2 linked regions of the Homo sapiens genome follow. The protein of the gene in region 1 purifies or fractionates together with the protein of each later gene. This does not show direct contact. Each region holds a gene or a part of one and is shown in the gene's direction. Other genes may lie near its edges. The genes, in order: STPG1 and PRTFDC1.

Region 1 (3,824 bases):
TAACCTTGAACCCAGGACTGGATACTCTGGACTGCTGCGCTGGCCCCCACGTAGGAATCGCTTAAACATATGTTGTTGATTCGGAAAGTGGTATATCTTCACTGCTCTTTCTTAGATTCTAGGTCCATGCCATCCTGTCATGGACAGTTATACAGGTGGACCAGTGAGGCACACCTGGGCAGTGCTCTGTTCACATCTGTCCTGCACCTGCTCTCATCCTGCCTTCACAGGTATGCAGTGAGAAGACTGGAAAGCATTATTAACAGTGTGGTCTTTTGGTGGTAGGATTGGGGATTGTTTTTTATTTGTTTGTTTGTTTGTTTTGAGACGGAGTCTCGCTCTGTTGCCCAGGCTGGAGTGCGGTGGCGCGATCTTGGCTCACTGCAATCTTCACCTCCTGGGTTCAAGCGATTCTCCTGCATCAGTCTCCTGAGTAGCTGGGACTACAGGTGCACGCCACCATGTCCAGCTAATTTTTGTATTTTTAGTAGACATGGGGTTTCACTGTGTTAGCCAGGATGGTCTGGATCTCCTGACCTCATGATCCGCCCACCTCGGCCTCGCAAAGTGCTGGGATTACAGGTGTGAGCCACAGCGCTCGGCCATGGATTGCAGATTGTTTAAAGTTTTTTTGTAATTTATCATATTTTCTTAAATGTTGACAGTGTACATACATTATTATTATAGTAGTCCTCCCTTATTCAAGGGGGATATGTTCCAAGACCACCAGTAGATGCCAGTGAAACAGTGGATAATACCCAAACTGATTACTGTCAATCAGACTGTTTCTGTTCATATCTTCCACTCACAAATTTAATGCTTTTTCCATCTTAACTAAGCACTTATCATGCTCTGTGGCAACAGCTTTTTATAGTTTGAGGTGAAGCACCAAAACTAGCACCAATTTTTTTCCCCTTTGAAATTTGATGGATAGAAGTTTTATTCTTACTGTAGATCTTAGCAACCTCAGAATACAGTTTTTTTCTTGCCTTATTAAGTCAAGAACTTTCACCTTTTCACATAAAGGAGGCACTTTACAGCTTGTCTTTGGCATGTCCAAAGTGCTGGCATCACTACTCTTGTGCTTTGGGGCCATTATTAAGTAAAGTAAGAGTTACTTGAACACAAGCACTGAGACAACGTGATGGTGGATCTGACAATCGAGATGGCTACTAAGTGACTAATGGTGGGGTAGCAAATACAGCTTGAATGTGCTGGACAAGGATGATTCACATCCCAGGTAGGGTGGAGTCAGACGATAGGAGATTTCATCACATGCCTCAGAATGGTGCATAATTTAAAGCTGATGAATTATTTATTTCTGGAATTTTCCATTTAATATTTTCAAACCACAATTGACCATGGGTAACTGAAACTGGAAAATAAAGCTACAGACAAGGGTGGACTACTGTAAAACAGGAAGCTTAATATTTTTCTAATCACTCATAATTCCAGAACACTAATACATTTTTTAATAACAGCTTTATTAAAGCTAGGGCAGTAGATGGTTCTTACTAAAATGGTATAACACTGAGGGGTGGTAAATGAATAGTGGCTGCTTTGGTTATTTTTTGAGACAGGGTCTCACTTTGTCACCCAGGCTGAAGAACAGTGGCACGAACATAGCTTACTGCAGCCTTGACCTCTTGGGCTCAAGTGATCCTCCTGCCCCAGCCCCTAAGGTAGCTGGGACTACAGGCACATGCCACCATGCCTGGTTAATTTTTATATTTTTTGTAGAGACGGACTTTCACCATGTTTCCCAGGCTGGTCATGAGCTCAAGCTATCGCCTAACCTCGGCCTCCCAAAGTGCTGGGATTACAGGAGTGACCCACCACACCCAGCCCTAGGGGCTGCTTTTATAGATACTAAAAGACCTTGTTAAGCTGGATTGGTGATTGTGCTTTGATCATTATTGATTTGTTTCTGTTATTTTGAATCTCTTAATTTCTTGAAGAATGTTGTCAATAATTCTATTAAATATCAAATTTTTAGTATAGATTGTCCACCAAAAAAAAGTTGAAAATTGCTGCTGTGAGGATTACAGAATAAAGTAAGGAAAAATACTGCATGGAAAAGGACCAGTAGAGTGTAAAATCATTTATTCAATCCTTTACTCATTAGTATATATAAATGGTATAAGTTCCTTAGGGAAAAAAATGGGCAAAATGAAACCCAAGTCTGCTAATAAAAAATAATTGCTATGGAAATTAAATTGTGCCCTTGCTATTAACAACTAAAAAGTAGTTAAATGTGTTAAACAACTCACATTGGACAACAGGCACAGTACAATAATCCCTGAAGGAAGAAAAACACGGTGAGTCCTACAATTGCCCCCATTTAGTACTGGGGTCAGTTTTTAGGCCATATTGTAGGAAATCCAAATGAATTCTAGATTTCTGAGTTGAGAAGATAAAAATAAGAATTCAGAGAGGCCAAAGAGGCTAGAATTTATAGGGAGAACCCTAAAGGAAGGAGCTGCACCAAAAATGTTCAGAAACCTGAAGAGAGGTCTCCTTAAGTTTTTGGCTGAGCAGTAATCTGCACATGCATGAGAAGAAACTAAGACTGGGGAAATACCCATCAAAAGGCCATAGGCTGAACAATTTCTGGGGCTTAAACAGAACTGGGAATGTTGCATGTTACCATAAACCAGAATGCAGAGACATGGTATTAGATAGGAATTGGGTAGAGTTCACAGAAATGTCATGCCTTAGTAGTGGGGATAAATTATTCCCAGAATAAAAGCTGCTCTGGACTTGCCATAACAAAGTTTAAAAGCTTGAAAGGGTCAGATGGATCTACAAGTTACTGAAAAGTGTGCCACATCCTTTGCAGGAATATATCAAAACCCAGCACCCAGCAATGTAAAATTCAAAATGTCCAATATCTAATACAAAATTACCAGACATGAAAAGGAAAATATGACCCATATCTGAGAGGAAAATCAACCAATAGGAACAGACTTAAAAATGACAGATTATAGAATTAGTACAAAGAAACCTTAAAGCAGCTACTATGAATCTTACAAATATTCCTAAGGATGTAAAGGAAACTGAACATGATGAGGCTAGAAATAGAAGACATAGAAAAAGAGCCCAAATGTAACCTCTAGAAAGAAAAAATACAATATTTGAAATAAGAATGCAATGGATGGGATTTGCAGCTGATGAGACTTCAGAAGATCAGTGAACTTGGCCGGGCATGGTGGCTCATGCCTGTAATCCCAGCACTTTGGGAGGCCAAGGCAGGTAGATCACAAGGTCAAGAGTTCAAGACCAGCCTGGCCAAGATGGTGAAACCCCGTGTCTACTAAAAATACAAAAATTAGCCAGGCATGGTGGCAGGCACCTGTACCCAGCTACTCGGGAGGCTGACACAGAGAATTGCTTGAAGCTGGGGGCAGAGGGTGCAGTGAGCCGAGATTGCGCCACTGCAATCCAGCCTGGGTGACAGAGCGGGACTCCGTCAAAAAAAAAAAAAAAAAATCAGTGAACTTGAAGACATGACAATATAGACTACCCAAATGAAGGACAGAGAGAAAAGAGACTTAAAAATATTGAACAGAATATCAATAACCTTTGGGAAAATATGAAATGATCTAATATAACTGTAGCCCCAGGAAAGAAGGTGGCAGAGGCAGAAAAACTATTTGAAAAAATAATGGCTGAATATTTTCCAAATTTGGTGAAAACTGTAGCCTACAGATTAAAGAAGTTCATTAAAACCCAAATATTAAAGACATAAAGAAAATTATGCCAAGGTACCATGAAAATAAAATTGCTGAGAGGCACATAGAATAGTCAAAGTAATAGAAATAGAA
Region 2 (3,824 bases), on another chromosome or scaffold:
AGTCCCACGGATTCCTCATGATCTCCCCCACCTTGATAGGGAAAACAGAACCCTTCAAAATGAGGGTCTTCAATGTTCTAATTTGCATCTTTCACAGGAACTCTGTTCCGTGCATTGGGTATTTTTATTTGTATGTTTCACACAGCACCTTAACTACAGAGAAGTCAGCTGAAAAGTTTCAGGGAGTAGAGGAAGACCTGATCCCGCTGGACTGACTCAGACACATAGGATCCCCGCCTTGGCCTCTATTCTCACCAGTCAGACAAGGAGAGGTGCTATGGAGGTTTAGAGGGATTCTTATGCCATCATCCGGAACTATTACCAGACAACGCACAATGGTGACCTTTAGCAAGCCTGAATTGTAACGCACAGAAGGGGAAATCTAAGACAGCTCCCCTTCACCTCCAAACCAAAGCTCCGTAACACAGAGAATTAGCAGAGCAGGTATCTCTAGATACCATCTTCACACTTGACTTCAGATGTGTGTTCTCTAGGGCTTCCTCATCTAGGACACTCTCCTCCCTTCTCCCCATAATAAGCCTAGTTCTAACACCAAGAAGGATAAACACGCAGCCTAATTATTTATTATTCTAACACTAGAGGCGATTTTTTTTCACTTGCATAGGCAGACTTCAGCTTGATTTTTATAACTTACATTTGCTCCAAAGCTCCTGGGATAATTTGGCTACAGTTCTCTTCAGCAAGCTGAACAAACATTAGCGAAAGAGAAGTGCAGTATGGATGGGTGACATGCCAGCGACATTTAGCCAGTGACTCTACATTCTGAAAACAAGTTTCATGCCTGTGCTGGATGTGTTAACTCTGGACCATGTCAGTTCTGGGCAGAGAGACCCAATCGCATGTTCTCATCTATTACTATTATCAAAGGTATAATCTGGATGTAGTCAAGGTTGCATGCGGTTACTAAGCAGAAATTGTCTAAGGAAATAGTACAGGATACTCAGTGTATAAATAAGATTTTAACTGAAGTTGAAAAACATTCACTTCAATGACAAATTTCTTATATCACTTATAATAACAGCAATAAAATAATAGCAGCTAACACTAGGAAGAGGTCGTGATGTGCCATGCACTATTCTAAGAGCTATACAGAGATTAGCTCATTTCATCCACACAATAGCTCTCTAAAGGTAGGAGCTGTTGTTGTACCTATTTTACAGATGAGGAAATTGAGCACAGCAAGCTTAAATAGCTTGCCAAAGTCATGTAGCCATGAGTGTCAGGCCAATATTAAGCCCAGGCAATCTGGTTTCAGTCACTGCCCTGACTCTTCCACTACATCTGCAAGTAACATCTGCTATTGCAAATGTAAGTGTAGGAGCTGCCTGCATTTACCAGCTAAGGATAGGTCACTCTGATTCATGATTGTCCTGCTGATCCATCATCCTTTTATTCTATGACATCTCAAGTTTTGGCCTTCTAAATAGGCTTTGGGCTCTCATTTTCCCAGTGTGAGTTGCCCTGCCTAATGGAAGGATTGCATTGCTCCCTATAAAGTCATTATTATAACCCTGGTTACAAACAGGGTTTCTTGGGATTTGCTCATATTATTATTATTATTATTTGAGACGGAATCTGACTCTGTCGCCCAGTGCAGTGGCGTGATCTTGGCTCACTGCAACTTCTGCCTCCCAGGTTCAAGTGATTCTCCTGCCTCAGCCTCCCAAGTAGCTGGGACTACAGGTACCACCACACCTGGCTAATTTTTGTATTTTTAGTAGAGATGGGGTTTCACCATGTTGGCCAGGCTGGTCTTGGACTCCTGACCTCAGGTGATCCACCCACCTAAGCCTCTCAAAGTGCTGGGATTACAGGCGTGAGCCACTGCACCTTACCTTTTTTTTTTCTTTTTGAGATGGGATCTCACTTTGTTGCCTAGGCTGGTCTCAAACTCCTGGCCTCGAATGATCTTCCTGCCTCAGCCTCTTGAATAGCTGGGACTGCAGGTGCGCACCCGGCTTCATATTCTTTTAGCTAGCTCAGAATCTCTGTTCCTTCTTTCTCTCTGGATTTATGAGGCTTTGTACTTTGCGTTCCTTTCTCCTGATTGATTCTTTCTTTTCTCCTCAATGTAACTTCTGACCTCTTCTGCTCTTGCTTCTCCTCTCTTACTCTTTTTTTCAAGAAACTCTGCAGTTTGGAGGAATCAAGCAGGCTTCCTAGCAAGGGACTCCATAATGCAACCCCCTAGAAAATAAGTCCCTCACCTCTAGTACTTATTTTCCTAGCAAGGGACTCCATAATGTAACCCCCTAGAAAATAAGTACCTCCAGTACTTTCTATGAGCATGAACCAGTCGTTTTCTTCTTGTGAAAGCATCGTTGGTCATAGTCACTGTGGAGATGACTTTGCCCAGGCTATAAGCCCACTGGCTGTACCCAAGTACACTTCCATTAAAAGTAAGCAAATAAATCTCTCATCTATAATACTGTAATAAACAAACCTGTAAGATTCCAAAACACTGAAACAAGTTTGAAAATCACTGGACCAGTGCACCTTTATTCTGTTTCAAGACTTCTGAAGAAGGAGAGCTATTGTCTGTTCCTTAAGAATTCTCTCCAATAAGTATTAGCCAGGCGTAGTTTTGCATGCCTGTAGTCCCAGCTACTCAGGAGGCTGAGGTGAGAGGATCTCCTGAGCCTGTGGAGGTAGAGGCTGCCGTGAGCCATGATCACACGCCTGGACAACAGAGTGAGATCCTTTCTCAAAAAATAGCCAGGTTCAGTGGCCCATGCCTGTAATCCCAGCACTTTGGGAGACTGAGGCGGATGGATCACTTGAGGTCAAGAGTTCGAGACTGGCCTGGCCAACATGGTGAAACCCCATCTCTACTAAAACTACAAAAATTAGCCTGGCATGGTGGCACACGTCTGTCTTCCCAGCTACTCGGGAAACTGAGGCAGGAGAATGGCTTGAACCCTGGTGGTGGAGGCTGCAGTAAGCCAAGATCGCGAGACTCGGTCTCAGAAAAAAAAAAAGAATCCTTTCTGACAAAAAATCATCATCTTTTCAATGAATCTTCTTTTGCTTTTCATAAGTACCTTGCACTGTGCTTAAATCCATTTCCTCTCATTCTGCCCTCAGTAGGGAGCTCATTAATATCCTCTGCATCATGAACCCAAAGACCAGCATTAATGCAACCTCCACATTCTCTTCCTCAAGTTGAACAATCCCGTTGCCTTTCATCTTGTGTCCTGGCTTTTGCTTTCCAGCCCTTTAAACAGCCAAGACACTGAGTACAGCGGGAGAATTGCTTTCTAGTTGCTGTGGCCCGCGCACCTGTTCACATAATGCAGCGTCGTAACGCCTTCTGCTTGAACTTTCCTTTGTGTTGTTGAGAGTGTTTCCTTTGGCATCGTATCACTGCATACTGCTTGCTTTAGAACACCAGGGCCACGTGACTCAATTATGCATATTTCTTGTTATGCACCAGGCTTCCTGAGCCCTTTCTCAACTCTGTATGCTAGATCAGTCATTCTTCATTGTAGGTTGGCTTGTTTGCCTTGCCTCCTTCCTCCCGAGTAGTCCTTCGGGTCCAGGTCCCTCTTGGGCTCATCGTGTGCATTTCTCACCATTTCTCACTCCCTCCTGCCTCAATGAAAGGTCCTCAAGTTTGAGTGGCGACAGCAGCATATGGTGACTTGCATTTATATAATCTAAATTTTGTTCCTTTTTTTTTTTCTCTTTCTCTGTCTGCTAAGATGCTGGATTTGAGATTCCAAACTTATTTGTGGTGGGATATGCCTTAGATTACAATGAATACTTCAGAGATCTGAATGTAAGTCTTGCATGCAAATCCCTAA

The links.
Region 2: the proteins of STPG1 (region 1) and PRTFDC1 purify together in Homo sapiens (affinity purification with mass spectrometry; one large-scale study listed by BioGRID and IntAct). This does not show direct contact.

Annotation. Positions count from the first base shown.
Region 1 is NC_000001.11:24,407,109-24,410,932, reverse strand, and holds part of STPG1 (O(6)-methylguanine-induced apoptosis 2), read left to right. Parts: intron 1-3,824. UniProt on the Homo sapiens protein: May positively contribute to the induction of apoptosis triggered by O(6)-methylguanine.
Region 2 is NC_000010.11:24,851,363-24,855,186, reverse strand, and holds part of PRTFDC1 (phosphoribosyltransferase domain-containing protein 1), read left to right. Parts: intron 1-3,722; coding exon 3,723-3,799; intron 3,800-3,824. UniProt on the Homo sapiens protein: Has low, barely detectable phosphoribosyltransferase activity (in vitro). Binds GMP, IMP and alpha-D-5-phosphoribosyl 1-pyrophosphate (PRPP). Is not expected to contribute to purine metabolism or GMP salvage.